Homo sapiens: one gene and its partners. The protein of the gene in region 1 interacts with the protein of each later gene in a pairwise test. Each region holds a gene or a part of one and is shown in the gene's direction. Other genes may lie near its edges. The genes, in order: LEUTX, CMTM3, PLP1, NDRG4, OLFM4, AIG1 and C3orf52.

Region 1 (3,713 bases):
GGGTAGATAGCCAGTAGTTGGATTGCTGGATCGAATGGTAGTTCTACTTATAGTTCTTGAAGGAATCTTTACACTGTTTTCCATAGTGGCTGTACTAGTTTACACTGCCACCAGCAGTGTAGAAGTGTTGCCTGTTCACTGCATCCACGCCAACATCTATTTTTTTTTATTTTTTTTATTATGGCCATTCTTGTGGTTTCGATTTGCATTTCCCTAATCATTTGTGATGTTGAGCATTTTTTCATGTTTGTTGGCCATTTGTATATCTTTTGAGAATTATCTATTCATGTCATTCATGTCCTTAGCCCACTTTTTGATGGAATTGTTTGGTTTTTTTCTTGCTAATTTGTTTGAGTTCGTTGCAGATTCTGGATATTAGTCATTTGTCAAATGTATAGATTGTGAAGATTTTCTTCTAGACTGTGGGTTGTCTAGAACTCTGCTGTTCCTTTTGCCATGCAAAATCTCTTTAGTTTAATAAAGTCCTAGCTATTTATCTTTGTTTTTATTGCATTTGCTTTTGGGTTCTTGGTCATTGTGTTGCTGTCTATCTCATTTCTTAGGTCTAGTGGATAAAAGGGCGTCCATTGTCTCCTAAAGTTTTTATTATTTTTTATTTATGCTCTCTATTTCACTGAAGATTTCTCCCCTCATTTCTTGTATCTTTTTTTTTAATTTCCTTAAATTGGGCTTCACTTTTCTCTGGTGCCTCCTTGATTAGCTTAATAACTGACCTTCAGAATTCTTTTTCAGGTATATCACGGATTTCTTCTTGGTTTGGATCCATTGCTGATGAACTAATGTGATTTTTTGGGGATGTTAAAGAACCTTGTGTTGTCATATTACCAGATTTGGTTTTCTGGTTCCTTCTCATTTGTGTAGGCTCTGTCAGAGGGACGGTCTAGGGCTCAAGGCTGTTGTTCAGATTCTTTTGTCCCACAGGTGTTCCCTTGATGTAGTACTCTCCTCATTTCCTTCCGAATTTTTTTAATGAAAGCCTTTTATCTGTTCCCTCTGCAGAAGGGCCAAGGCGTTATCGTCGGCCACGCACAAGATTTCTCTCCAAACAACTCACAGCATTGAGAGAATTGCTTGAAAAGACCATGCACCCAAGTTTGGCTACAATGGGGAAACTGGCTTCAAAGCTACAACTTGATCTATCCGTAGTAAAGGTCTGTTCCCAAGTGTGTCTGTAGGTAGCACGCCTAACCCAGAGCTTCACACACACTTTTGATCATTGTTATAACAGTTCCTATTTATTGGCAATTGCTATGTGTAAGGACAGATGTTAAGCACTTTATATTTTTATTGTCATGAGCACCCACTTTATTGAGGAACACTAAAGCTCACATAGAAGAGCTGTCTTCCAAGCATTATAAACACAAGAGTTGGAATTTGAACCCAGACCTTTCCAACTCCAGACCCACCATGCTACACAGGACTCTTTGAGGCTGGATCTCAGATACTCCCATTTGGGTCTGTTCTTGTGTATTCAGGATGGGTTCTGCTTAATCAGGACCATCACAGTCATCCAGATGCCTGTCACTAAGTTCCCACAAAGTATTCATGGGAGAACACCTGGATGAACCCTAAAGATGACCCAAGCTAAACTCTCACCCCATACTCTGACTTTAAAATACTTTCTCTGGGCACCAGGAATGGTGGCTCACACTTGTAATCCCAGCACTTTGGGAGGTGGAGGCAGGAGGATCGCTTAAGCCCAGTTTAAGACCAGCCTGGGCAACATAGCAAGACCATGTCTTTACAAACAAAAATTAAAAATTAACCAGACATGGAGGCACATGGCTGTAGTCCCAGCTACTTGGGAGACTGAGATAGGAGGATTGCTTAAGCCCAGGAGTTCAAGGCTGCAGCGAGCTATGATTGCAGCACTGCACTCCAGGCTGGGTGACAGAGTGGTAGCTTGTCTCAAAAAAAAAAAATACACCACTAATAAAAACACCCTTCTATTTAATACATCACAATCTAGGTCATATTCCACCCATTGCTAGTACAATCCTACACCCACTTTTCCCTTGAAACCCAGGACAGCAGAGAGTAGAAAGGGCTTCCCTTGTTCCAATAAATGTGAGACTCTCTCTCACACCAAAAAACCGAATTCCTGAGGAACATGAGGATGCCCCTTTATACTCAACATCCATTATTAACCTCCCCCCTCCTCCCTCCTTAGATCTGGTTCAAGAACCAGCGTGCCAAATGGAAGAGGCAGCAGCGGCAGCAAATGCAGACACGGCCATCACTAGGGCCAGCAAACCAGACAACTTCAGTGAAGAAGGAGGAGACTCCCTCAGCCATAACTACTGCAAACATTCGTCCAGTAAGTCCTGGAATCTCTGATGCAAATGACCATGATCTACGTGAGCCTTCTGGTATCAAGAATCCTGGAGGAGCCAGCGCCTCTGCGAGGGTTTCATCCTGGGATTCTCAGTCATATGACATTGAACAGATATGTCTGGGGGCTTCAAATCCTCCTTGGGCCTCCACTCTCTTTGAAATAGATGAATTTGTAAAGATCTATGACTTGCCAGGGGAAGATGACACCAGCAGCCTAAATCAATATCTTTTTCCAGTATGCCTTGAGTATGACCAGCTCCAATCTTCAGTGTAACTTCTTACACATCACTTCTAGGGGAGGTCTGGATCTGACCCACTGAGACATATTTCCACACATCTTTAATGGTTTGACCCCAGTCTAAGTAGATCAGGGGCTGGGAATTTATCTTTTTCTGTAGAAAAAACAATAAAGGAACTCCCCTACCTTTCATCATTGCCTGCATTTTCTGAACTCCATTTGAGTGCCTCCTCACCCAAATTTCAGCATTAAAGATTGTATTCAGAGAAGTGACGCCAGGAACACAGTGACATAGGAGGTTCCTGATTGATGGACTGAATAAACGTCTGTGCCTACATCAGTTCTCTCTGGAAGAAAGTCAGAAGTGAGTGGAGAGACTCCTACACACCAGGCAACTAAGAAAATGTCTTAGCAGGCCAGTCGCGGTGGCTCACGCCTGTAATTCCAGCACTTTGGGAGGCCAAGGTGGGTGGATCACGAGGTCAGGAGATCAAGACCATCCCGGCTAACATGGTGAAACGCTGTCTCTACTAAAAATACAAAAAATTAGCTGGGTGTGGTGGTGGGCACCTGTAGTCCCAGCTGCTTGGGAGGCTGAGGCAAGAGAATTGCTTGAACCCGGGAGGCGGAGGTTGCGTGAGCCAAGATTGCACCACTGCACTCCAGCCTGGGCGACAGAGTAAGACTCCATCTCAAAAAAAAAAAAAAAGAAAAGGAAGAAAAGACAAGAAAAAAAATGTCTTATCAAACAGGCAGCAAAAGCTGAAGCACTCAGAAACACTAAACCCACCCTGGGCACTGAGCCATACAATCAGGAAGGAATCCCCAGTTCCCAGCTTCTCCCCCAGGAGAGAAGCAGTGAACCACACATATAGCACCCTAACAGTTGATGGTTAAGTTCCTAACGAGCCTGCATCAGGGAGTTGACTAGGTAGGTAAACTACAGACTTACAAGAGCCTGAACAGAAGCTAGGTGCCACCCAAAGCTTCACCCCAGCTCAGCCCAGCAATAAATCCAGGTCTATCAATTCCTCCTGGAAGAAGTTTGTCCACACATTGAGCACCCCAACTTTTATACCTGCACTCAAGGGACTGCATCCTAAATCCCCTAGCTCTGGAA
Region 2 (4,586 bases), on another chromosome or scaffold:
AAGAGACCAGGCCGGTGTAGGGAAGAAGGCTGAGAGCAGAGACAGCAGGCGCTTCTGCCTGGGGAGATGCTTCTCTGGACCAGGCGGATGTGCCCCTGTGCTGGCAGTGCCTGTGGCTGGACAGGTAGACAAGGGCAGCTCTGGAAGGGCCTGCAGGCCCCACCCTGTGGTTGGGATCTTCCCTAGGCAGGACCAGTAGGTTAGGCTTAAGAGCCACTGGTTTCCTAACAGCCAGGTGCTGGGGCCATGGGGATTTGTGAATCCCAGAAACCGTCCTTCTGCTGAAAATGAATGCCACTCATCCCATCCCGTCCCTTGGCAAATATTAGGTTAGAGCTCCCAGGCGGTTTCCTCAGGCTCTGCAACCTGCTCCCAGTTGCCCGCAGCAAGTGATCCCAGACAACCAGCCCAGGGACCAATTAGTAAACGTCAGTGGAAACTTGGGTGGTTTTATTTTGTTTTTTTTGTTTTACTATTTGGAGAGTTTCACATATGTAACAATTATTTTGCTGTAAAATTATTCTTGACTTATATGTTAGAATTGAATATAGCAGCCAGGCACAGTGGCTCACGCCTGTAATCTCAACACTTTGGGAGGCCGAGACGGGTGGATCACTTGAGGTCAGGAGTTTGAGACCAGCCTGGCCAACACGGTGAAACCCCATCTCTACTAAAAATACAAAAATCAGCCAGGCATGGTGGTGCCCGCCTGTAATCCCAGCTACTTGGGAGGCTGAGGCAGGAGAATCACCTATGGGAGGCAGAGGTTGCAGTGACCTGAGATCAAGACATCGCACTCCAGCCTGGGCGACAGAGTGAGACTCCATCTCGGGGGGAAAAAATTGAATATAGCAAAACCCACAAAATCTGACGAGTGCAGCCCAGGAACCGGAGTGAGGGACAGAGCTGGGGTTTAGGGACTAGGCTGCCCACACCCCAGCCCTGAGCCCAGCCATGAGCCAGCGACAGCTCATGGGGACTGACTGGGGTTCTGAGAGACAGAGGCTGGCCAGGGAGGGGATGAGCATCAGGAAGTAGCAACCAGCACTGGGGTGGGGTTGGGGGTTAGTGACTCTGGTGCTTTTCCTTCTGGGGTGGAGGTTCCAGAAGGCTCTACAGAGCTCCGAGACAGAACTGGGATTTCAGGAACCCTCGAGGTACACCTCATAGGCAGGCCCTTACCATTATAAAATTGTTTCTGATTACAATATTAAACAAGGATTGGGGGAGGGGGATTGAAGATATAAAATGGCTAAAAAGAGGCTTGCTGATTTTCCAGTATATTTTAGTTTGGGGGACAAGAAAATAGCTGTCCTCACCTTGTCCTGCTGAACCTGGGGGTGGGGGTAGAGCTGGAATGCAGAGGTACAGCCCTGACCCACCCAGCTGAGAAAAGCCCAGGGAGACTCCGGAGGGGCTGGGCCTGAGGAAGGGGCACCTGGGCTTCAGTCTTGGGGTGGAAACACCCCCACCTGCACCCGCACCCACACCCTGGAGGTGCAAGTGGCTTCTGCGGCCGGGCACGGTGGCTCACGCCTGTTACCCCAGCACTTTGGGAGGCTGAGGTGGGTAGATCACCTGAGGTCAGGAGTTCAAGACCAGCCTGGTGAAAGCCCATCTCTACTAAAAGTACAAAAATTAGCCAGGTGTGGTGGCACACGCTTATAATCCCAGCTACTCGGGAGGGAGGAAGTTGCAGTGAGTCGAGATCCCGCCATTGCACTCCAGCCTGGGTGATGAGCAAGACTCTGTCTCAAAGACAAAAAACAACAACAAAAAAAAAAGAGAGAGAGAAAGTGGCTGCTGCCTGTGGAGGGCCTCAGGCCCGCGGCCTGCCCTGATGCCAGCGATCACTGGGAACGGTAGAGTCAGCTGCAGGAGGCCTGCACCCAGGCTCCTGCCAGCAACCCAGCTGTGCTTCCCCAGAGACCGTTCCCAGGCACCGCTGCCCTGAGCCTCCTGCCAAGCATCCTCTCTGCTTTCCTTTCAGAAGAGAATTCCGACTCGGACTCTGACTGAAGGCCTGGCGGGTGCCTTGGCAACCTGAGCCACACAGGCCTCCACCCCTGCGCCTCACAGGGGTCGCTGGCGTTGGAGCGGAGGCCTGGACTTCTGAGTTGCAGAGGGGGCTGCGGACACAGCAGGCCCCCTACAGCCTCAGGTTCTGCCTGAGCCCAGCCTACCAGGCTTGCCCCTCAGCTCAGCACTGTTGACCACGCTGCGTATGAGGGCATCTTGGGTATCCCACTCCTTCTCCCCATTTCTGTCCCACAGGCCTTCAGCCCTTTAACGTCTCTGCCAAAAACCAGCACAAGGAGACAAAGCAGAGCCTTGTCTGTATCTGGGCAGCAGGTGTTCCATGCTGCTAGGTGGCGGGGGTCGGGGGTCTTCTGTTTCACTAACAGGAACAAAGACAGAAACCATGACAGGGCTGCCCCGCCAGGCCCCGGTGGGTTTGTCTGCACTTGGTGCTCCTGCCCACACCAGCCACTTTGGTGACAATGACCCTTCCAAGAATCTTTGGTTCAAGGAGCACCAGTTCCCTCTTCATTCTTGAAGCAGGGAGAAATTGACCTTTGCCTTGTCGCCCAGGAAGTGGGGCTCGGCACCCATAACTAACACCTCCCACCCTTGGAAACCATGTCTTCTGGGGGTGAGATGACCATTCTGGGTCTAAGACTGTTTCAAAGAAGAGCTCATAGACTGACTGGTCCAGAAGACAGAGGGTACAACAGTGGCATCACAGTGACAGTGTCATGGGGAGCTGGGCGGGCCCAGCCAAACCCTCCTTCTTCCTAGAGCCCAGCCAGCAGGCAGGAGTTCCTGGACCCTCAGGACAGTGAACTTCCAGACCTCAGGGCAGGTCTATGGGCCACTGCAGGAGATGAGACCAGCCTTCTGTGTTCACCTAACGATTTATACTGTGTATCTGTCTTTGATGGAATTTTGTAACTTTTTATATTTTTTTATGCAAAAGCAGCTTCTTAACAGATGGCATTTTCTGTGACTCTAGGCCTCACAAAAGAGCCAGAGTTCTGGACCCATGTTTGGAGCATTTGTAGCCTTATTCTCTTGCGTGTGAATCTCTTACCCTGAAAAAAAGCCATAATGAATTAAGCCAGACTGACCACTTGCTTGGAGTGTGTGCTTGAAAAAACCAGAGCAATACTGTTGGGTATTGTATCAGGCTTCAGTACAAACTGGTAACACCAATGTGGATCCTGACAGCTTTCAGTTTTAGCAAAAATACACGTGAAATCTGACTACCATTTAATCCTTTATTTCCCTAACCTTTTTGGCACCAGGGACCAGTTTCGTGGAAGACAGTTTTTCCATGGACTGGGGGTTGGCGGGTGGGTTGGGGTGAGGGTGGGAGGGGATGGTTTCAGGATGAGACTGTTCTATCTCAGATCATCAGGCATTAGATTCTCATAAGGAGCACACAACCTAGATCCGTAGCATGCACAGTTTACAATAGGATTCGCATTCCTATGAGAACCTAATCCCACTGCCAATCTGACAGGAGGCAGAGCTCAGGCGGTAATGCCGTTGCTTGCCACCCACCTCCTGCTGTGCAGCCTGGCTCCTAACAGGTCCCATGGTACCAGTCCACTGCCCAGGGGTTGGGGACCCCTGCTCTAGTTCTCACACTACCCTGTTTTATAAACAAAGAAACTGAGACAGAGGTCGGGTAACTGGCCCAGGGCCCTCTCACTTACACATCAGGATAGTGTCTCACGGCAGCCTCAGGCAGCCGGAACCCTGGGGCTCTCCTGGTTTGGAAGCTGGTTGCATAACAGCCCAGAGGACTACAGCCCTGGAGGACCCGGGTCCGCATTCTTATCCAGGCTGATGGGAAAAGACAAGACATTCCACCCAAACTGTCACACACCACATGTGCTGAAAATGGGTAAGAAAGCTGGGTGTGCAGGAGTGGAGAGGCCCCTGGTGGAATTTACATTCCACCTTGTAAGCCCTGGCAAAGCGGCAAAGCTGGTGTCACAGAGGCCTTGTTCCACCCTGAGGATCGTGGCTCTGTTCAACCTCCACACAGCAGCCCTATTTCAGGAACTGGATCCGTAACGTTTAAGGGGCAGAGGAGGCCACTCAGAGTGAGGAGAGACAACGACATCCTTACACGTCCATTTATTAAACAAGTTCCTTCATGACAATTTAATACAATAGTTATTAACGATTAGTGTTGAGAAAATTATTTCCCTCTACATACAAAAATACAGATTTGAACACTATGAAAAAGATCAAGACAAGTACCATGAAAAACTGGTCCTTCAAATGAAAGGGGGAAAATTGAGGGCAATGTGAGGCTTTGCCTGCTGTCGGGGACAAATCAATAGCAGCAAAGCTTTGGGGCCCCAACCCACTCCATACATACAGACTTGAACCCAAAAGCCAGGCCAGCCAGGGGACGCCCACCCAGGGCTTCCACGTCAGCTGAAAAACCAAACACATAAACCTAAGTTTGCCCAACGGGCATCGCCTCAGAAAGCCCACAGTTGTGTCTTTAAACTGCCGAAATGAAAGAGACTTGATGAGTAAAATGTGATAGTTGTTAACATTGCCCCCCA
Region 3 (3,446 bases), on another chromosome or scaffold:
GTGAGGAAGCGATGGCTGCAGCCGAACGAGAAGGTCAGGAAGAACGTGGTGCCCAGCTGGCTTAGCCTCACCTTTCAAAGGTTCCCTAAGCAAATTTCTTCTCAAAACAGAAAGCATGAGTTTTGTGGGATGCTTTGTACAATCAGACCATTTCTAAGCCATCTGTTGGTATCCCTTTGTTCCCTTCCTAGTAGGTACCACAAGAGTGGATCTAACTGGACAAGAGTCTAAAATGCTGCTCATGTGATTGAGACTTGGGCACCTGATCTGAGAGGGAGGATGGATAATAAAAATTAAATAATTAACTCCAAGGTGAAATTTACAATGTTCTGGGATCCTGCACAGTTCGAGGTCCCAGAGGGAATTGGAGTAGATCTGCATGTTGAATGTTTTATTGCCTGAGGGTTATCCATGCTTTGAGTGAGGTGCACATTTGTTTTCAGTCTCTGGAGTTAAAGATCCTTTGGCGGCTGAACATGTGTGGGTTCCAGCAATGTCTTTTTGTGGCCAGCAGTTAGCTTAGAAAGGTTTTGTATCTGAAATTTTAATCTCCTATTGGCTTTGTTCAATGGCTAGGGAACAAAAATGTTCCTATGGCAAGGAACATGTTCTAAGCTCAGCCTAAGGCACAAAATGGCACGACTTTCTTTCAAGATCTGTTTTGATTTCTTTACACCTTATCTGCCCAAAAACATCCTCTGAAGCCTCTCTAACCCAGGGATCCTCCTCACTCTTCCCCTACCCATTCCCCCCACCCTCCGTTATACTGGGGCCAGTTATCTAGTAGATACTGCCAATTACCCTTGGCAGAGGTGCCCTGCTCACTAATTTCATTTGAAGGAGAGCCCTGGAACCTGGTTTTAATGTCTGGCACACGCCACTCCAGGATCTCCCAGTTTGTGTTTCTACATCTGCAGGCTGATGCTGATTTCTAACCACCCCATGTCAATCATTTTAGTTTGTGGGCATCACCTATGCCCTGACCGTTGTGTGGCTCCTGGTGTTTGCCTGCTCTGCTGTGCCTGTGTACATTTACTTCAACACCTGGACCACCTGCCAGTCTATTGCCTTCCCCAGCAAGACCTCTGCCAGTATAGGCAGTCTCTGTGCTGATGCCAGAATGTATGGTGAGTTAGGGTACGGGTGCTTTGGCTCTCCTACCCACTATGGAAGCACTATATATTTGGTTATTTTCTTAGTGTAAGGAGGGTGGTGATTATGAGAAAAATATAAGATGATGAATGATTGGGTCTTAGTTTATTAATCCTTCCCTACTGAAACCAGAGAGGTTTCTTCCCCGGGAAGGGAACTTGGAAGTGGTGGGAGTTTTCTTGGCCATTCACATTGGCCTACTCTAGTTGACTGCTGTTCACAACCCCAAAGCAGCACATTTCAATAACAAACACAAGGTTTCACCACTGTTCAATACCACCTTCTCTTTTTTGTAAACCTGTAGAAAAGAGGATCCTGATTGTTGGTAGAATCCAACTTTACAGCCAGGATAATTAGAGATGGAAGAAGGGCTCTGGGGGAAAGTCTCCATGTGGCCCCGTAACTCCATAAAGCTTACCCTGCTTGCTTTTTGTGTCTTACTTAGGTGTTCTCCCATGGAATGCTTTCCCTGGCAAGGTTTGTGGCTCCAACCTTCTGTCCATCTGCAAAACAGCTGAGGTGAGTGGGTTATTTGGGTTATTTTACAAGGGAGTAGCTAATACCATACAAATTACACCCATGGCCTTCAATTTTAAGGACTGAAAGTTTCCCTTTGCTGGATTTTGAATTAGCCGATTGCCTTCTACAACATGTTGGCTAAGTGTGCCTGAGCCAATGAGCATAGAAGGTAAAACACCTGTTTTCTCTAGAGTTGCATAGAAAGACTTCCTTTCCAACCCTTCCCCTCTTAAAAGAGAAGTTTGTAGCTTTAGGTAAAGATAGAGCCTAATGGCAAAATCCCCCACATGAAAATTTTCATTCCTTTAGTTAAAAACCATATCAAGAAAATGGGCTGTGCACAGAGGCATTCATAGGTTTTATGAAAACATTTTCAATTTGGAACTTCTTTATCTCAAATGAGAGGTAAAATAAGTACATTTGAAAGGGAAAGCACTGTATTGAGAACAGATATTATATACAAATGAGGCAGGGGAATAAAAGTAAATCCGGGGGAGACAGGCAGTAAATTATTTCTTTGACAGCAAAATGTTGACTTTAAATTTTGGGCCCCTGGGCACAACTGTAGGGAACCAGTTAATTATTTTGGAGTACTGTACTATTTCATGACTATTCTGTGATCTGGGTGTTAATGGGCCAGGTGCTATGGTGTACACTGAAGACTGGGAGGCCCACATTTAGGGAAGTGAAAACTTAGTTAGAGATGTGGAATTAGCACACAAGAAAGATATCAACACATTCAGAAAGCTGTATTCATGATTTACAGTGGAGCATATTACTGCTGTTGCAAGAAACAGTTCTTCCTCTTTCATTTTCCTGCAGTTCCAAATGACCTTCCACCTGTTTATTGCTGCATTTGTGGGGGCTGCAGCTACACTGGTTTCCCTGGTGAGTTGACTTTGAATGATCTTGGCAAGTAAATAGGCCTGAGATAGTGTGGGTACAGCTATTCTGAAAGGCAAGAAGGTAGACTGCTTCCATCCTTGAAATGCTGGAGGGAAGCTTCTGGGAAGATAGCAAAGGGTGGAGGCTCCGTACTTCTACTTGCATTGGCAAGGCAGAAAGACATCACAAATTAGATGGGAACAAGAAAAGTGGTATGAGGAAAGAGGTAAGAGATTCATAGACACGAATGATAATATTTAGTATTTATAGAACATGTAATGTTGCCAAGTACTTTGCAGTCATAAATTACGGTTAATTCTCAATACATTTTGATCAGATCAGTGACAAAACACTGAAACATCACGAAACATGACTTGCTATAGCCTGGAATTCTATATACTATCAATATGAATCCACTTTGGATACTCTCCAGTGGATTTAGTTACTCATATGGAAATACTGGGAGGACCTCCTAACATTATTAGAATTGTTATGATTATAATACAATGCTATGTCCCAGGTCTTGCTGATAGTGCTACAGTGCCCTGTGAATGTAGTGTGCTCATTGTGCAGATTAAAAACCTAAGGCACTGAAGGGTGAAGTGATTTATCTGAAGTTATTTTATAAGCAGTGATCAGACAAGATGAGCTCACAGAACTCCTGGCCCCTACTGCTGAGGTTTCCATACAGAGTCAAGTAATTTCTCACCTTGTAAAACGAATTGATTCATTAACCAGGGGAGAGCTCTACTGCATGATGTGGCTGTGTGTCTACAGCAAGCACCCTATGACTCTAAGTCACTCGGACATATTGATGTGGCAAAGCCCAAATATTGTTCACTTCCCTGAGGAAAACTCAGTGCTAGATCAAACAGAGGTGTGGAATAAAT
Region 4 (4,744 bases), on another chromosome or scaffold:
GCCTTGGCCTCCCAAAGTGCTGGGATTACAGGCGTGAGCCACGGCGCCTGGCCAGGGCTTCATTCTCTATAAAAGCAAAAAAACAACATGCTTAAGATTTTAAGATGTTTAATACTCAATTTTGCACTTCAAAAATATATTAAGAGCTGATTCTGTTGAAAGAGCGTGTGTGTGTGTGTGTGTGTGTGTCTGTGTGTGTGTAGGGGTGGAAACAATGATAGAGATTCTAAATAAATCCAAGAACTGTGAAGGGTTCAGTGAGAGGAGGACAGGCAGGGGCATCTGGACATGGGTGTGCATGCACAGACCCGGCTGTAGCCGGGTGGCTGATCAGCAGCACCTTGAAGACTTTACAGAGTGTTTCTGCCATCTGCACCCATCCTGGCCCCGCCCGGCCCTGTTTCCCCTCTTACTGCAGCTCATCTTCCCCGACCTGGTGGAGGGGCTGGTGCTGGTGAACATCGACCCCAATGGCAAAGGCTGGATAGACTGGGCTGCCACCAAGGTGTGTGTGGTGACCGGGGGTGGGGTGGGTATACCTAGGGTGGGGTGAGGGGCGGCACTCACGCTGGCGCCCTGCTCCCTGCAGCTCTCCGGCCTAACTAGCACTTTACCCGACACGGTGCTCTCCCACCTCTTCAGCCAGGTAAGGGGGGGAACTTCTGCAGATCTGGGGTGATCTGGGATTTGCCCCTCCCAGCTGGCTCGGTAGGAGGCAGGCGGGTGTCTTTGGCATCTGACCTGGCTCACTCCAGATGCTAAGCCATCTGAAAGACAGACATCCCCTCCCAAGGCCCCACACCTCCTACCTGCCCCCACCCTGTCTCCCCTGCCTGCTGAGTGGGGCAAGGGCCACTCTGGCAGTGACATCTGCCAGCCCCCTCTAAGCCTGCGTCCCTCTGTCTGCCCCTCTGCATGCCTCCATCCATCTCCCTGGGCCTAGGAGGAGCTGGTGAACAACACAGAGTTGGTGCAGAGCTACCGGCAGCAGATTGGGAACGTGGTGAACCAGGCCAACCTGCAGCTCTTCTGGAACATGTACAACAGGTGCGGGTGGGATCAGCAGCCCTGGGACCCAGCACACCCCAGTGGGGGCCCTTGCACACTGCCCCCTGAGGGAGGCAGGCAGACAACACCCTTGCCCTGGTTTGTAGATGGGCACGATATTGGGCCTCAAAGGAGGTCATTTCCTGCACAAGGTCACACCCTGTGAGGGGCAGAGGGGAACAGGGTTTCAGACTCCGGGCCTTGGGCTCTTCCACTTTTCCTCCTCCCCTGGGGGCTTCCCGCTTGGGAATGTTGGGGGTGTTAGTGACATCCCTGACTCCAGTAACCCAGCCTTGATGTTGACGTCTGCAAAATGAGGAAGAGGTCGGATGAGCCTGTGGTTTTCAAGCTGTGCTCCTTGGAGCCCCCTTTAGGGGCTGCCCTGCCCTGCAGGAAGGTGGCCAGGCCCCCTCACTCACGTGCCCTCCTTCTCATTCTTCTACAAATATTAAGCACCTGCTGTGTGCATGGTGCTAAGAAAACAAAACAATAGAGAATAGAGAGACCCAGGGCCTGCCATCCCATATGGTCCAGGAGACAGGCCAGTAGCAGAAACTCCCACAGCACAGGTGGCGGTGCGCATGGCTCTGAGGGGGATAGAGAGCAAAATTTGAGAGCCCACCTGGTATGTGCTAGGGAGTCCAAAAAGCCGTGACAGGGAGCCTCCAGTTCATTTATGCAGAGCAGGTCCACGCCTCCCTGCTTTACCAATTGGCAGTGTTGGGCTTGGGATGCCCCTCATCCTGTCCTGGGGTGCCCACCTCTGCCTCTGCCCCTCCCCCTGCCCCACAGCCGCAGAGACCTGGACATTAACCGGCCTGGAACGGTGCCCAATGCCAAGACGCTCCGGTGAGTGGCCCCTGGCCCTCTGGCCTGCCCTGGCCTTTGCCCCCATGACCCAGCCAGACAGCCCTTTTCCTCTGTATCTGCAGCTGCCCCGTGATGCTGGTGGTTGGGGATAATGCACCCGCTGAGGACGGGGTGGTAAGTGAGGGGCTGTGGGCTCACTGGGGGTGGGAGGTAGGGGTGAGGGGCTCACTGGCCCCTGCCCAGCAGGGACAATTCTTGATCCAGCCCAGGGGAGCCTCCAGGGCCAGCAGTGGACGGTGGGCTTCTTGTCCACTTTCCCACAGTCTTGCCAAGCCTCACATCTGGCATAGCCCCCATCCTTCTGGCTGGGGAGGCCTGGAAATGGGGAGAGCTGGGGCCAGGGCTGGGCCATCAGAAGGTCCCCTCTTCCCTCCCCAGCAGCACAGCCCCAACTTGGTCCCTACCCACCTCAGGCCCAGGGTGTACGATCTTTTTTCTAAAATGTGATCAAGCCATTATAAATCATTAACGCATACAGCGGCACGGTCTCCCTTTTCCCGTCACCTGCAGCGGTTATGTTTGGGGGCCGTGTGTCACCTCTCCTGCTGGAACTCTGGGAGCAGGTGGCCTGAGGCTGGGATGCCCCATCAGCACAGAGCTGCTGGGAAGCTGCAGGGTCCAGAAGTGCCCAGAGCAGCCCCGTGCGCCCTGAAAATACCAGGCTTTCCCATGCCCACTGGGAGGTCCTGGAAGAGCAGGGTGGTGGGCTGTGCCAGCCCCCTCCACCCAGTCTCTCTCAGACCCTCGGCACCCCTCACCTCACTGCCGAGGGCACTGGGGCTTTCCCAGGCCAGTCCCACCACGGCAGCCCAGCCCTCGCCTGACTCCCACTCCTAGCAGTTGTGAGTGGGCTCCAAGGGTCCCAGGCCCTTCAGTGGGGCTGTTAAACTGGTCTCCAAGAACATGGGGAGCCCTGGGAGAAGAAAGCCTGGGAGGAGCAGCCTGTCACAGCTGCTGGGCCTCCCTCTGCCTCCCTGCACCCCCTCTCCTCCCCGAGCTTGGGGCATCAAACCTGCCTTGGCAATGGGGGTGGGGAGGGGCAGGGGCTGTTGCTGAAGCTGGCTCCTTGTCCTCAGGTGGAGTGCAACTCCAAACTGGACCCGACCACTACGACCTTCCTGAAGGTGAGGCTTTCTTCCCCAGCCCTGGGCCAGCTTCCCTAGCATGGGCCCAACCTCAGGGAGGTGTTTTCCTGGGGTCCCAGCCAGGGTGGGAGCTTGTCCTGGAGTGAGGGCCCTGCTCAGGTCACCCCACTCTCTCCCTTGCAGATGGCAGACTCTGGAGGGCTGCCCCAGGTCACACAGGTGAGACTTTTGGCCCTCCTGCCCTTACATCTATGGGGAGGGGGAAGCCTCTACCCTACCTGCTAATCCTAGGCAGCCAATGAAAGCATGTGCTTGTCCTGCCCTCCGCAGCCAGGGAAGCTGACTGAAGCCTTCAAATACTTCCTGCAAGGCATGGGCTACAGTGAGTACATTTCCACCCCACCCCACACCACCTAGAGACCGGTGGGCAGGCAGTGCTGGGGTTGGGGCTCCTGTTTGCAGGGCTGGCACGTGGTGTCAGGTGGTAGTAGGGAGCCCATAAGCATAGGAGTTTTGTGTGACCTGGGCCCCGGATGCTGGGCCCCACAGATGCCACCTGAGTTGCAAGTTGGCCATCCCAGGCTGTGCCCAACTCCCCTTTGCCCTTAGGGAGGACTTGGCGCACTGTTCTGATGGCAGTGCTGGGCCTACTGGGGGAAGGGACTCTTCCTTCCGTGCTGGGGGTCCAGGGCCAGGGGCCGTGTCCTGCCAGGGAAGCCTGTCTGGGGGTGAGGCACACTCCCCTCACCCGCCCCAGGGCTTGGGGTCAGAGCTGGGTCTATGGCACCTGAGAAGGCCTTTTGAAACAACTCATGGCTGCACCCAGGGGCATCATAGGAGTGGGCTTGGAGTTTGGGGCCAGGGAAGGCAACTGGGGCCGCCTGGCATTCAGAGAGCTGAAAGCAGCTGAACCTGGCTTGGCAGATCTGAAAATCTGGGTCTGGGGTGGAACCAGGTACACACACACAGACACACACACACACACACACAACACACCCCTTGTGTGTCTCCTTGACTTCCCCCTTCCCTCCAAGACATACCTGTTCCTCCAGGTCCCCACTGCCAGGAGGCAAACTTCCTCTTCTCAGTTTGTTTTTTGTTCCCCTCCAGACTTCAGCCTCTGGAGCTATCTCCAGGGCAAACAGGAGGGCTGCCTGTGGGAAGGCTGGGGAGGACACCCAGGAATAGAATGCTCTCTGGAGCAGGGCAGAGCCCTAGGGCCCACAGGGAGGCTCCGCAGGAGCACAGAGTCTGGAATCAGGGCACAGCAAGCATTTGCGAGGTGAACGGAAGAACATTGTCAGGCGCTGAGACGCGTTCTCAGGGTCCTGGGGAGAAACTCCACCAGGCAGCCCCAAGCTGGGAAGGGCACAGAGCGGGCAGGCCTCCCCCATTCTGTATGCAGGAGACTGAGGCCTAGGAGAATGGTGAGGGGATAAGCACCCCACCTGTCAGGGCTTCCTTGGGCCAGAGATCCTTCTGGGGGCCACTGCTGGGTGGGCAGGCAGGAGTGGGCTTCCAGAAGCCTCTGGCCCTGCCCCCAGCCTCTCTGTGCCTGTCCTTTGTCCCATCTCTCTGGCTCATCTCAATGCCCTTGACTCAGCGGACCACGCTCTTCACTGTGTTGTGTCTCCCCCATCCCCGCCCCCTCTCCGGCTCTGTCTTCTCTCTTAGTTGCGTACTTGAAGGACCGAAGGCTGAGTGGAGGAGCAGGTAGCCCCACGGCCCTTCCCCTGATGCAT
Region 5 (4,616 bases), on another chromosome or scaffold:
GCCACACAAGTAGTTAATGACAGAGCAGAAGCTGCAAGGCAAGGGTCTTTGCTCCCTGGTCAGTTCAGGACCGAAGGTGTCAGGCAGCAGTAATCCAAGGACAACGGTGGGGAGAAAATGCATTGCTTAGTATCCAGGGAAGAAAACAAGTGAGCCTGTTGGGTTGTTTTTGTTGGATTTTTTTTTTCCCAGAACTTTCCCCTAGGCCCTCACACTTAGACTTCTGTGATCCATCCTAGCCCAGCTGTGTTGTTTAAGCAAATTGGACCCAGATTTTTACTCACTTTCCCACAACCTTGGCTGTACCTGAATCCCTGCCAAGCCACTTGGCTCTCTTCCAGCTTTGTTCATATTATATTTATGATGTTTATATTAAACTGACTTTTGGTCATGTTTTTAAATCAATTTCTTTCACTTGCTCTCTTTCTGTTTGGATTGGTTGATAATGCAGAATTGGAAAATCCCCAAGCACCACAAACTTGTGAGCCTGTGGAGACTTTAATTAAAGTTATTCTCTATTATGGGACTTTAAAATCTGGCCTGTCTGCTTTTTTCACTGCAGAGTTGCACAGAATAAAAAAGACTATATGCAAGTCTCAGCTCTAAAGTAACTCTGCGCTCTCTGGGCCCCCTCCCTTATAGCTACAGTTTGCTGACCCAGTGGTCAGCTTGAACTTAGAACAAGTGAATGTATCCCAGGTTCAATAAAATATGCTTCCTATTTGGTTTTTGCTACAAACAACGTCCTTTTTCTGCCTCATTTCATAGAACTTTCTAATCTAAAATAATTGGCCTTCTACTCATTAACTTTTTTCCCTTAAAACTTCAGTCTGTCTCTGTTTTGCCTGTGAATCTAAATGACTGTATATAGGCCAAATGTGATCGGGTGCTCAGGGGTTGATCTCCAGTTTGCTTGGGGATGCAAGGTTCTGTGCTGGTCCATAGTGATGCTCAGTAAGTAGCTGATGATTAAATGGGGTCTGAAAGAAATGGGGTGACCTGCTAAAATCTCAAGCTTAGGGAAGAGCCACATGTTGAACAGCATATATCCAACACTTCAGAGTCAATTTAGTCTTAATCATTTTATGACTATGATTGTTTTAATTGCCTAATTCTTATAAGTCAATCATATTCTCCTCCTGGCTCAAACAAAGTTCAGTTGCCCAGTTGAGAGAGTGCATTAATAGATCCAAGACTAATTTTCCTCTGTAGGCATATAATTATTGGCTTCAAAAAAATGCTACTAACCATGATACTTTTAAAAAGCCAAGTCAGAATATTTTAAATTCTCATGATTATGGCTTCCTCAGGTATTTTCAGAGTACCATGGTGCCATCTAATGAATTGCATGATGAAGAGAGTGCCAACCAAGGCTAAACTTCTATAGAGGGTTCCTCAAATTATGTTCCATGGAGTAAATGCCAGGCTTTTTGAAAAACCAGATATGTAGCAGGGTAGAAGGCTAGTGTTTTATAAATAAGGGTAAGCTGAGTTTAGGTGACTTGATTAATCTTTCATTCCTTTATTCCACAAACATAATTTGGTGCCACTGTGTGGCTGGCCCTGTTCTGGGTACTGGGGTTACCAGCATGAGTAAAGAAACCTCCAGAAGCCACTATCTAGGAAATGAGACATCTAAACCTCCAGTTGTAACATGATGTGATTATATTGAGATATTTACCATTTACTGAGTAACATTTACATGTCTTCTCTGTATTTTTCGTAACTATTTTGCAGAGTTGGTATTATTTTTCTTCTGACATGAGGAAACTGAGGCTCAGAAGGTTAAGTAACTTGCTCAAGGATACACAACTACTGTTGGAATCAGGCTTTGAATTAGAATCTGTCTAGTAGTATTTTCCATACTAGGCTGCCTTCCATAGCTGCTCTAACAGAGAGGTGCACCTGTGATTTCTGGAGTGAAAAGAAAATTCCAACAACTCACCTATCTGCTTAACACCAAATTATTTTTGCTTCCTTGGTAGTGGAGTAGGTAAAAGGGTACTGTTGCTCCTGACAGTTCTGTGCTGTGTGTTCTCTTCCACCAGAAAATGCAAAATGATTCAATGGTCTTTCAGAATTCTTGGATCATGATTGGGCAATGGGCTGTTGCCCAAGTGTCAGGGTGAAATTGGGATGGAAACTGGGTATGAAGTATGGAATGAAGTATGTCTAAGACCTTGACATGAAGGAAGGGGCTGGCAAGGAGCATGAGATAAGGGAGGGTGGTGAGAAGCTCAGTGAAGATGGGATGGGGGGATGGGGACTCTGAGGAACAGTGGGCACTGGACTGGCTGTCAGTTTCAGTATCGTGTCCAAGATGGTTTGCTGCCAGGAGTCGAGGAAGCCCGCCATAGCATTTTTCCTGGTCTGACATTGTTGTGGCCACATTTGTAGCATTGGCAGCAATGTTGAGTTCTCATCCCCATTTCCACTTCCTTTCTACCACAGCCGGGGCCCTAAAAATAGCCCTTTATCCTTACCCATAGAGGATAAAAGGAGGATAACAAATGAACAGGAAAGTGTTTAGGAATGTTTGGGAGGTGAGAAAAACAAAGTTTCATACATTTTAATATTTACACTGGGCAATTTGAATTTTCTGGTCAACTTATGAAATGATGAGCCACTATTACTATTAGTAGTAGTAACAATAGTAATAGTACTAATACTATTATACTAATAATAATGCAATTAGTTTTATGATAATAGCAGTAGTAATAGTAATTTTTTGAGAAGTTTATTTTGGTTCCTTCATGTCTAAAAATTTCCACATCTGGGGACAGAATAGTTTAACCTCTTGGTAGTGCTTGAATAAGTTATATGCATCATCAATTTTCCTTAAATATTTTGTTGCTGTCGGTTTGGGATATTTTCTTTTCAGGAAGGCAAGACTCAATGAAGCAAACAATTATTGTCTTCCAACCTGAAAGAAAAAAAAGTGACTTTCCTCAGAGTGAAATGTAGTTAAATAAATAAGTTCTCAGGAAGATACTTTAGCTAGAAAATCCAGTTTGTAGCATATGGAAACTTGAACAGTTTTTGTTATCATTAAACTGAACACACCGCTAACTTTATTTTAATAATTCATGCATTGTTTCATAAACAAAAGCAAACAAGCATTCATCTGAGAGATCACTTTTAGTAGAAGAAATAATAATTTATAATTTTATTTATTATTTCTTCAGTGGAGAATAGTCTCTTGGCTGAAAACACGTTGCTTTTTTATTTATGAAATGGCACATGCATTATTAAAATAAACCTGTGACTGTGTTCTGCTTAATGATATGCAAAATTATTTGAGGTTGGATACAGAGTGGTTTCATTTCTCTACCTGTTGTATGGTTGGCTGGCTTTCTCACCAACTGTGGATTTATGAGAGCATTTAAGGAGCATATATTTAATTCTGGGACCAAAAAGCCCCAGCCGATTGGAAAAATAAAAACAGAATTTCTAGTAATGGTTTCACCTTTGAGCAGTCCTTGGGTGAGGAGGATGGGGAGGGAAAGCATTTAGCAAGGAAAGGAATGGGTCTTTCCATATTGGACACAGCAGAGACCCAGAGACAAAGGCTTTGCTCCCCCTTCCCCGCCTCCATGCTAATCTCAGGCAATTCTTTGGAGCTCTGCTTTTGGCTCCAGCTCACCTCATGTTCCTCAATGGCTCTCTGAGTCCCTGCAAGTATTTCAGGCCAAATCCAACAATTCAGGTTCTGCTCCTTTCCTGTCTCACCTGCTCTGCTCTGAGCAGCAGGACGAGGGAAAATGACCTCAAATATACTTGAAGTTGGGTTTTCTTTGTTATCCAATAAACCATCTCATGAGTTTTTTTGAGTGTTAAGATCCCAGAAAATGTGTGTTCAACTCTTTGGATAGTTATTATAAAAATACTGGAGGAACTTTATTTTATTTTTATAGCTCATAAACTCCTGGGATGGCAGGCATTTCAGCGGGAGTACAATGTGAAGGGTTGATCGCCCAGACTGAGTTATTTACCCAAGTGTTACAGGGAATGTAGATTCAGTGGACCAGTGAATCTTGTCCCACTTGATTGTACACATTGTGACAATGACAGTGTCTGGATGGAAAGATGAAATACTTGCATGTCATTCTATGGCACAATAGCATATGGGTTATGAACAGCAGGACTCACCATGTAACTCTGCAGCAGGACGGTCAGCAAGTGATTTATTGATGGGCTGTGCATTGGGTACGGAGCAGGCAATGTTGCCCCAAAATAACTTTATGGCTTCTCAAGGGTGAAATCCCACCATTATAGGACCATCTTTCTGGATCTATAAAATGCTATATTTAAAACATCCTCTTCTGAGAATAGCTTAAAGCAGGATTGGTACCTGGCGTGGATGTGCAATTGGGGGTCCCAAGGAAGGGGAGAGTGAGGAAGGGCATGAAGCCTTGCCTGGGAAAATCTTCTCCCTCATCACTATTCTTTCTGGGATAGATTTCTATAAATCTTGTGGATTTATAGAAATAGGGTAGGATTGTGGAATAATCTTGCTTCCTTGATTTTGCTATAAGAAAAACAAAATAAGATAATATTTGCAAAATGCTTTCTGATAGAAGGAAATATATTAAATTCACCAAGTCTCCCTTTCCTCT
Region 6 (4,744 bases), on another chromosome or scaffold:
GTGCCTGTGAGAAAGTATGTCTGAGATATATTCATAAAAACATTCATGCAAAGTGTTATTCTTTTTATTATTTGAGATTTAGAATCCTTAGAGCTTAAGCATTGTACAGCTGTTAAAACAACCAACCTGTCAATCCTCAGTAATGGCATGAAATGATTAGGCTACTATAATTTAGCCATTTTACTTTTCACTTTTAATGTTAAAAAGACCGTAAACTTTATTACCTAGTGCCTTGTACAATATTAATGAGTCTAAGTTTATTGGAGTAATTTTGCAAGAGTTTAACTTTTTAAAATTGTAATGTGAAGGCCCTTTTTTCTAGCCAACTTGGATTGCAGGAATCATTTATCCTGATAGCCACAGTTGGATTCCATATTCCATGGCTTCAGTTTACCAGGATCTGAGTCAGGAATCTCAGGCTCTATGCATCCAGGAGCAGATGATTATGTGGCAGTGGCCATTCTGGCTGTATTCATTTCTCTCCTTGGGTATGAGGGTCATTCCAGTAGATTCAGAGCTTATGGTCAAAAACTGAAATACACATTGTTGCTACCAGTAATCTTATACTGTTATTCTCCAATGGTTTCTTTTCCTAGTATTGAGAAACTGTAAGAGAACTAAGGTGTTTTTGGAAAATTGAAGTTAGTAAATGGAAAAAGAACACTGTCTTGGTGTGGTAGGCAGAATAATGGGCCTCCAAAGATGTTTACATTCTCATGCCAGGAACCTGTGAATACATTAGGTTACATGGCAAAGGGAAATTAAAGTTGCAGATGGAATTAAGATTGCAAATCAATTGACCTTAAAATAGGGTAATTATCCTGAGTTATCCCATTGGGCCCAATGTAATTACAAGGGTCCTTAAAAGGAATAGGGAAACAGAAGACAAGAGCTTGTTGGAGGAAGATGTGACTGGAAGAAAGTCAGAGAGAGATACGACAATGCTGGGTTTGAAGATGGAGGATGGAGCCAGGAGACAAGGGGTGTGAGAGGTGTCTAGAAGCTGGAGAGGACAAAAAAATGGTTTTCCTCCTAGAGTTTCCAGGAACACATACCTGCTGACAGCTTAATGGTAGTGTATTTTGGACTTCTGACCTCCAGAATTGTAAAATAATAAATTTGTGTCATTTAAGCCATTCAATTGATAGTAATTGGTTACCACAGTAATAGAAAACTAGTATACTTGGCTTTAAAGCCTCTGACTTAGAAAAAAAACTTAACTCTTTTTGTACTTATATGAAATAAATGCAGTGACTCAGCTAGCCCTTTATGTATAGTAGATAACTGGTTAATTTTAGCTTTAACAAAAATGCAAGTTTTTTCCTACTTCATCCATGAAATTATGTGGAGGAGACATACATATGTGTAACAGTGGGCAATATGAGGATTTGTAAAGACTGGACTGTCAAGCGTGTCTGTGTGAAGAGACCACCAAACAGGCTTTGTGTGAGCAATAAAGCTTTTAATTCACCTGGGTGCAGGCGGACTGAGTCTGAGAAAGGAGTCAGCGAAGGGAGATGGGGAAGGGGTTGCTTTATAGAAGTTGGGTAGCTAATGGAAAATTACAGTAAAAGGTGGTTATTTATTGTTAGCAGAGAAGGGGGTGACAAGGTACATGGTGGGGAGATCATAAGACTTATTGTCCAGAAGAAGAATGTCACAAGGTCGGTTGATCAGTTAAGGTAGGGCAGGGACAAGTCACAACGGTGGAATGTTGTAATGTTGGTTAATCAGTTAAGGCAGGAATTGGCTGTTTTACTTCTTTTGTGGTTTTTCGGTTGCCCCAGACTTCTTGGCTCCTGCAGGCCATCTGGATGTATATGTGTAGGTCACAGGGGTTACAATGGCTGAGCTTCGGCTTAGAGGCCTGACATGGACAACTTTGGAAAAACTAGGTCTTTACTATGAAGTATTTCAGAGACTATCATTAAGTAACATGTCAGGCCAGGAGAAGAAATACACTTAATTGGAAATAAGCTGGAAAGAAAGAAAATTTAAACTAGCTGTTACTCAAATATTAACACTTTCTTAGTCAATATCACAGCTGATGAATTTTCTTCAAGTGATGTGGATTCATTCACTAGCAAAATGATTATGCTGTGTGTTACATGATAATTGCCCCAAAAGATAATAAAGAAGAATTAGGATAAAACCAACATAAATAAATGAAAAGAAAAAGGCAAATGTATTTTGAGGTCTTAAAGTAGTATTTGGGGTATAATAGGTGTTTAGTAAATGTTTAAGTAAATGGAAGCTTTCTCTTCCCAAATTTTCATTGAGTATTCTTTTCTTGTCCTGTCTCCTCCCAAAAACATTCAAAATGATAGGAATTTAAAAATGTATCAACCAGAACATTATTCATATGTATATGGTAGAGTCTAACAGATGAGTCAGAATCAACTTCTTTGAAAACCATGAACTGGATTTTTTAGAAAACTTAAAATATTGATGATGGATGTAAGACATCTTGATTTTTAAAGATTGAAACATATCTGGGAATCCCATTGGCTCTAGTTTGTAGTACTGGCCATTTTGAGAGTCATCCTCTCTTAGGGCCGTATCATACCCATTATTCCTCCTAGACTGGCTTTTCATTCATGTCATGGCAGAATATTGTTCAGGCCCTGCCTACTCAAAGTGCGGGCTGAGGACCAGCAGGATCAACTTTGTCTGGGAGCCTGTAAGAAATGTGGCATCTCCAGCTCCACCCCAGAGCTTCTGAATCAGAGTCTGCATTTTAATAAGATCATCAGGTGATTTCTATGCACATTCAAGGTTGATAAATGCTGCTCTAAGTTGCATTGTTTTTTCATTTACATGGATTAATTGTAGGACCCTGTAGAGCAGTCTTAATATATGAATTCTGCCTATTTTCTTTGTTTTTTTTTTGAGACAGAGTTTCACTCTGTCACCCAGGCGAGTGCAGTGGTGATCTTGGCTCACTTCAACCTCCGCCTCCCAGGTTCAAGAAATTCTCCTGTCTCAGCCTCCCGAGTAGCTGGGATTACAGGCACCTGCCACCACACCTGGCTAATTTTTGTATTTTTAGTAGAGACAGGGTTTTACTATGTTGGCCACACTGGTCTCAAACTCTTGACCTCAAGTGATCTGTCTGCATTGGCCTCCCAAAGTGCTGGGATTACAGGTGTGAGCCACCGCGCCTGGCCTGAATTCTGCCTATTTTCAAAACATATTACAGATTGACTTTCACTGTGATATAACAAAAAAATGTAAGAAATTACAATTTGAAAATAAAAGAAAGATATGTTTCAGATACGAGAGATGGGTTAGTTATTGCTATTGAGAAACAAATTTAAATAATCTTCAGGGCAACTAAGGTGAAAAACAATACACATTTGATTGTATTGTCCTTATGTTGAAAGAAAGGAGGTATAACAATTTATTGGGAAAAATACAGTTCTTTCCAGGCACTGACTTTTCAAGGTAATTTATCACTCAGATATTTATTTAAAGAACATTAAGGGTGGGTATGGTGGCTCACACCTGTAATCCCAGCACTGTGGGAGGCCATGGTAGGAGGCTTGCTTAAACCCAGGAGTTCGAGACCAGCCTGGGCATCACAGCAAGGCTCCCACTACAAAAAATTAAACATTATTTGGGGGTGCTTGCATGTGCCTGTAGTCCCAGCTATGTGGGGGCTGGGGCAGGAGGATGACTTGAGCCCAGGAGTTCGAGTTTGCAATGAGCTATGATAGTGCCACTGCACTCCAGCCTGAGTGACAGAGCCAAATCCTGTCTGTAAATAAAAATAAAAAAAAAACATTGGTTAGCATAGTAGATAATGTCTTTGATTGGTTTTTAGTGTAATATATAGAAAAATTTTTATGGTTAATGTTTCTTATTTGATGGTTTTATGAAAGCCAAAGGCATGGTCTTATATTTTGGCTAGGTGAAGGCATTTTTGTAGAAGTTTAAGGTAATATAATCTAGGTACTTTTTTTGTTATCTAAATCTGTATTGCAAAGGAATTTCAGAAAACCAGAGAGAGATGAGGATAAATAAAGTCTCAGATGTGGAAAAGCTTGGGGTGCTCAAAGAATAGGAAATAGTCAAGTGTACCTGGACGATACCATTTTTGCTTTTAGACATGCTGAGAATTTTTGACATTTAAAAAATGTTAAAGAGGGAAAATAAGCTGCTTAAGTATACTACATTTTGCATTTGAGTTAGTCTTATATTTATTTACATACTTATCATAAAACATATTCTTGTCTCTAGTTCATGACTTAATTTTAAATAGGAAATAAAATACCTTGAGAAGAGATTCTGCATGTCATTATGTAACTATGGTACTTAGTTTTGCCAGTCAAAACCACACATTGCCACGTGAAGGCCAGTAGTTTATTGAGTACTCAGGGAACAAAATTAGGTGGATTTTTTTCTGTTTTTTGTTTTTTGGGGTTTTGGATATTATACAGAGAGTGTAAAATTGCAATTTTTTTCTTCAGGAGACTCAGACTTGACCCTAAAATATGCATATAAACTTGAAGGCTCAAATAATGTTTTTTCCTAACCTGGAGGAAGAATTGTGAGAATAATGCTTTGCATAGAATCCTCTTCACCTTCTTTGCATGTTTCTTTTGGATCAGGCATAAAATAGGGGCCTGGTTTTGTTAGAGTGGGGGAAATAGTTGATGATATAATCACCCATTCCCTCTTAGTTGCAAATGGTATTGAAATTACAGAAAGTCATCTGACCACTAGTTGAGGTCACTTCTTTTCC
Region 7 (4,744 bases), on another chromosome or scaffold:
GGCCAGCACCAAAATAAGAATGGCAGAGAAGGCCAGTCGCGGTGGCTCATGCCTGTAATCCCAGCACTTTGGGAGGTTGAGGCGGGAGGATCACGAGGTCAGGAGATCGAGACCATCCTGGCTAACACAGTGAAACCCCGTCTCTACTAAATATACAAAAAATTAGCCGGGCGTGGTGGCGGGCGCCTGTAGTCCCAGCTACTCGGGAGGCTGAGGCAGGAGAATGGCGTGAACCCGGGAGGCGGAGCTTGCAGTGAGCGGAGATCGTGCTGCTGCACTCCAGCCTGGGCGACAGAGCGAGACTCCATCTCAAGAAAAAAAGAAAAAAAAAAAAAAGAATGGGAGAGAAAGCAGGCCAGGTGGCCAGGTGTCGGTCAGGAGCGAGTCTCCTCGAGTGCCGGCTGCTGCTTTGTGGGATGGTGAACGCTGAGGAATGACTGAGGCGCAGTTGCACCCTTTGGCCGAACTCCCAATAATTGTTTAGCAGATGCTTTGTGTCCATTATCTCTAGTTTTTGCAACAGTCCTGTGAGCTAATTTACTATTTATATATTTTAAAGCTGAGGACTTTGGGGCCTATGAGTTTCAGTAGCTTGCTTAAAGCCACCTTGCCTTTAAGTGGTATATCTTGGTTTGGAATCCAAGTGTGTTAGATACAGACACATTTTTTCCCCATTGTATTCTGTTGTTTCCCATGGTCTCCATGAAAGAATTATCTAATGGTGGAGTGGGAAGTAGGAGAAGAGTCATGGGACCATATAGGGTAAGGTGGGGGCCCCTCTGTGACACCCTCATAAACCGGAGCTCTGCACAGTGATGTGGACAAAAGGGAAAGTTGGAGAGCTTTGTGGAGACACACAGCAGGGATTGGTTCTGGCTCATCTCTCTGAATTGCGTCTTTGAAATGGACTAGTGCACACCCTGAAGGGCTGTTAGGGTTAAGTGAAATGACGCTGGTGCTCAATAAACCATAGCAGTTGTACTTGTTTTCATTGACCCCTCCTCTGCCTCACTCCAGCCTTCTCACTCCAGCTTTGCAGCTTATTTCCTGTTGTCTCTTGCAGCTGTCCTTTCATTTCCCTTCCCAACCCTTTTTTACATAGAACCTAGGCCACAGCAGTAGCCTTGTAGCTTTTTCTTGGTGTTTCCACTCTAAACCACACATGATTTTCCCTTAATTTTCAACTCGGCTCTGGTGTTTCAAAACCTTCAAGTTTCCAGTGCACACCCAATTAAGTCCAATCTATTCTGGGACAGCTATCAACACCCTCTGAGTGTGCTCCCAGCCTTTCACTCTCTCTAATCTTAACTTTCATTATTTGCCTCTGAAACCCACATTCCAGTCGGCAGGCTAGTCTGCTGGCCGGTTCCATTACGAATCCACACTTTGGATGCTCTTTCCTGGGTTTGGAATGCCTTCAAAAATCCATCTTTCAAAATCCTGCCTATCCTCCCCACTTCAGAGCCCCCAGAGGATTTTCTTGCTAACTTCTTGATGAGGTTCTGTTCTGCCTCTGATCTCTCTTTTTGAAAACTTGATTCAGTAGAGTGTTGCCCTAAGGTCAGGGTCTTGCTGCCTTCATTTCTGTGTCTCTGGCACATCCTAGGTATTCAGAACTGTCTGTTGCAACACAATGACTGCCTCACAATCTCCCTCTGCCTTTCTAGGCTAACAAGGAAAGCCCCTGGAGCTCCTGTAATAAGAATGTGGTTGGAAGATGCAAACTGTGGATGATCATCACCTCCATTTTCCTAGGTGTCATTACAGTGATCATCATAGGCTTATGTCTTGCTGCAGGTAAGAGGATTTAGATGTGAATAAATAACACATTTTAAGAACTTACTTAAGGCTTGTGACTTACACTGAAATGGAAGATGTACTCATAGCCATTTCATTATTTATAATGTGAATTTAAGACCGGCTTGGAATATATTGTATGGGTGGGAGATATGCCTGATTCTTGTGTTTTTGTTTTCTGTTGTTGTTGTATTTTGTTGTTTTATAAGCTCCAGAAGAAATATAGAAACCAGTGTTTTACTTTAAACTCTGCTCATTGGATCTTGAAGAGGTTTCTTAATGTTTCAACTTACTTAAACACTGATTTATATTTTATTTATATCCTGATACCTGTTGATTTGAATTCTTTTTCTTTTCATTTGTTTGCTAAAAATAATTATACTTCATCTGGTGTGTCTGATATATTACTATGATGATAAAATAATAAATAATGTATTTGAAAGAGTTTTAAAAAACTTTGAAGAACCATGTGTCCATAAGCTGTCATTATTTTAACTTATTGTATTTATTTATTTTTTTTTTTGAGAGAAAGTCTTACTCTGTCACCCAGGCTAGAGTGCAGTGGCACGACTTTGGCTCGCTGCAACCTCTGCCTCCCAAGTTCAAGGAATTCTCATGCCTCAGCCTCCGAAATAGCTGGAATTATAGGCATGTGCCACCACGCCCAGCTAATTTTTGTATTTTTAGTAGAGACGGGGTTTTGCCATGTTGTCCGGGTTGGTCTTGAACTCCTGACCTCAAGTGATCTGCCTGCCTTGGCCTCCCAAATTGCTGGGATTAGAGGCATGAGCCACCATGCTTGGCCCAATTTTAACTTGTTTTAGAAATGACTGTTTATTTTATTAGTGTTGTATGTGTGTATAAAACAAAAAATGTATAGAATGCTAACTATATATGACTACATCTATTCCATATATTATTTCATGTTGTTGCTTATTTTGATTGAAAAATGATATATGTTCAGTTACCCATAAAACCCATCTGTAATATTAATATTTGGTCATATTTTCTTCTAGTCTTTTGTTTAGTTGCATTTCTAAAATAATTTGAGATTAGATTTCTTTATAGTCTTGTGGACTACCTTTAGGATTTTGATATTATGTTTAGATCATTTTGCCAAGTCATTAAAAATTATTTGTGAACATTATTATTTTTATGATTTGCATGATACAGTCTTCCACATCATTTAAAGTTCTTTAGGTAGTTACCAATTTTTTAATGATTATTAGTATTCGTTAAAGTTTTTACATCCTCCAGTGGACAATCATTTCAATTCAAAATGGGAAAGAAGAAAATTGTTTTTATTTATATGTGGGGGTGATGGTAGAGAGGGGCTCGACTGAGGCTGGGATACTCCCGAGCATGATCCAGCCTTCATGCGGCATGGGTTGAGTCCAGCTCCCAGTTACAAACCCAGTCATAGAATGAGAAGAAGAAGGGGTAACTCCCCAGTCTCTCCAGAGGGAGTTCTCAGGAATTTTCCTCAGAAACTACATTTTCCATTTACCGCTTGTTTCCCCTTCTCCCAACCCCTTAATTTCCTGTCTTAGAGTTTTGTAATTCCTGAAGGAATAGGAAAACTTTGATGACATCAGCCAACCTCCAGCACATAAGTTTCCTGGCCAGGCACCATATCTACGTATTTACTTAGGGCATTGTTCAGGTGTGTTGGATGACTGTTTGAGGATATAAGCTGGTGTTAAGGTAGGAAAAAGCTAATGAAGTGTGCTGCACCTCCTCCGTCATGCTGAGGACAATAGTTTTGGTGTGAGCATTGCCATACTTCCTATTCATATCAATTCCAACACATGGATGTTGAAAATGAGGTTGAGTAGCACAATCTTGTCCTGACATAACTAGTTGGTGCTATCCTAGAAGTTGATATTTGGATCCTGTTGGCATCTGGGGCCTATCATAAAGGATGATTCAAGAGATCTAGATGGTTTAATATTCAGGATTCTAAAGCGCAAGACCCAGGATCTGTCTTCCATTCTCAAAAAGTCATCTAACCTCTTCACCTCACAAAGAGCAGTCTGCAAGAGGAAGGTATTTCACTTCCTTCCACAGTTTTTCTGGAGATGTAAAAGGTTATGGGATAATATTCAGGGAAGAATTTTTTTAACACTTGTAGTGCAAACTTTATTTTTAATTTAACTGTAAATTTGTGTTCGAACATGTCAATGCTGTAAGAGAGATTTTTTCAAACTACTTTTTAAATCAAGGAAATACTTGTATTTTACTTGGCATCTCAGCTCTTAGGTATTTGATCCTGTGGGGAGAGTCATGTTAGACGTGGGGGTGGGGGGAGATACAGTAGGTTAAAAGGGGTGGGGCAGGGGCTCCCTTCTGTGACAGTCCCAGCCTCACCTAGAGCAGTTCCGTAGGCATTTTTTGGGGATGATCTTCAATAATCAGCCACTTCCTAATTGCCAAGCCCATTAATATGAATCAGATATTTGTGGAACTTTCAAGTACTGCATGGGAAATGTTGTCTGGGGATAAAAACACTGTTGGGAGAGTCAAGGGCTGTGCCTGTGGCTGTCTGGATTTACTGGGTGACTAAGGTTCCTCAGGAACTATATTTGCCATTCATTGCCTGCTTACCCTTCTCTAGACCCCTTAATCTCCTGTCTCAAGGCTCTGTAGTCTTCAGACTGAAGCTTGGAGGCGGAAGTGTTAACTTTTGTTCTTCAGTAGGCAGGTCTTTGCAAAACTACCCAGAAAGGCTGAGGAAGCTGAGAGGCTAAAGAAAAACTGACAAATCCAGTTACTCAGAAAGAAACATTTAACAGGGTTTTAGGAACAGAAGCCATGCGTTGGGCAGCAGTGAGAGGAGATGGTGCATTCCTGCACCATTACCCCAAAGGCCCAGGGCTTAAATACCACAGAAAAAGGGTATGCATGCTTCAGAAGGGATGTGTTTTATAATTGCATAAGGGCAAGATTT

What was found.
Region 2: the proteins of LEUTX (region 1) and CMTM3 interact in binary tests that used the Homo sapiens proteins (3 or more experiments, as listed by UniProt).
Region 3: the proteins of LEUTX (region 1) and PLP1 interact in binary tests that used the Homo sapiens proteins (3 or more experiments, as listed by UniProt).
Region 4: the proteins of LEUTX (region 1) and NDRG4 interact in binary tests that used the Homo sapiens proteins (3 or more experiments, as listed by UniProt).
Region 5: the proteins of LEUTX (region 1) and OLFM4 interact in binary tests that used the Homo sapiens proteins (3 or more experiments, as listed by UniProt).
Region 6: the proteins of LEUTX (region 1) and AIG1 interact in binary tests that used the Homo sapiens proteins (3 or more experiments, as listed by UniProt).
Region 7: the proteins of LEUTX (region 1) and C3orf52 interact in binary tests that used the Homo sapiens proteins (3 or more experiments, as listed by UniProt).

What each region holds. Positions count from the first base shown.
Region 1 is NC_000019.10:39,783,507-39,787,219, forward strand, and holds the end of LEUTX (paired-like homeodomain transcription factor LEUTX), read left to right. Parts: intron 1-1,020; coding exon 1,021-1,172; intron 1,173-2,191; coding exon 2,192-2,629; 3' UTR 2,630-2,785; downstream 2,786-3,713.
Region 2 is NC_000016.10:66,610,619-66,615,204, forward strand, and holds the end of CMTM3 (CKLF-like MARVEL transmembrane domain-containing protein 3), read left to right. Parts: intron 1-1,990; coding exon 1,991-2,019; 3' UTR 2,020-3,269; downstream 3,270-4,586.
Region 3 is NC_000023.11:103,786,840-103,790,285, forward strand, and holds part of PLP1 (myelin proteolipid protein), read left to right. Parts: intron 1-958; coding exon 959-1,127; intron 1,128-1,597; coding exon 1,598-1,671; intron 1,672-2,493; coding exon 2,494-2,559; intron 2,560-3,446.
Region 4 is NC_000016.10:58,505,969-58,510,712, forward strand, and holds part of NDRG4 (protein NDRG4), read left to right. Parts: intron 1-418; coding exon 419-505; intron 506-589; coding exon 590-646; intron 647-943; coding exon 944-1,047; intron 1,048-1,839; coding exon 1,840-1,896; intron 1,897-1,979; coding exon 1,980-2,031; intron 2,032-2,993; coding exon 2,994-3,041; intron 3,042-3,185; coding exon 3,186-3,221; intron 3,222-3,332; coding exon 3,333-3,384; intron 3,385-4,676; coding exon 4,677-4,715; intron 4,716-4,744. UniProt on the Homo sapiens protein: Contributes to the maintenance of intracerebral BDNF levels within the normal range, which is necessary for the preservation of spatial learning and the resistance to neuronal cell death caused by ischemic stress.
Region 5 is NC_000013.11:53,045,051-53,049,666, forward strand, and holds part of OLFM4 (olfactomedin-4 precursor), read left to right. Parts: intron 1-4,616. UniProt on the Homo sapiens protein: May promote proliferation of pancreatic cancer cells by favoring the transition from the S to G2/M phase. In myeloid leukemic cell lines, inhibits cell growth and induces cell differentiation and apoptosis.
Region 6 is NC_000006.12:143,063,406-143,068,149, forward strand, and holds part of AIG1 (androgen-induced gene 1 protein), read left to right. Parts: intron 1-4,744. UniProt on the Homo sapiens protein: Hydrolyzes bioactive fatty-acid esters of hydroxy-fatty acids (FAHFAs), but not other major classes of lipids. Show a preference for FAHFAs with branching distal from the carboxylate head group of the lipids.
Region 7 is NC_000003.12:112,091,693-112,096,436, forward strand, and holds part of C3orf52 (TPA-induced transmembrane protein), read left to right. Parts: intron 1-1,667; coding exon 1,668-1,797; intron 1,798-4,744. UniProt on the Homo sapiens protein: Has a role in LIPH-mediated synthesis of 2-acyl lysophosphatidic acid (LPA). LPA is a bioactive lipid mediator involved in different biological processes, and necessary to promote hair formation and growth.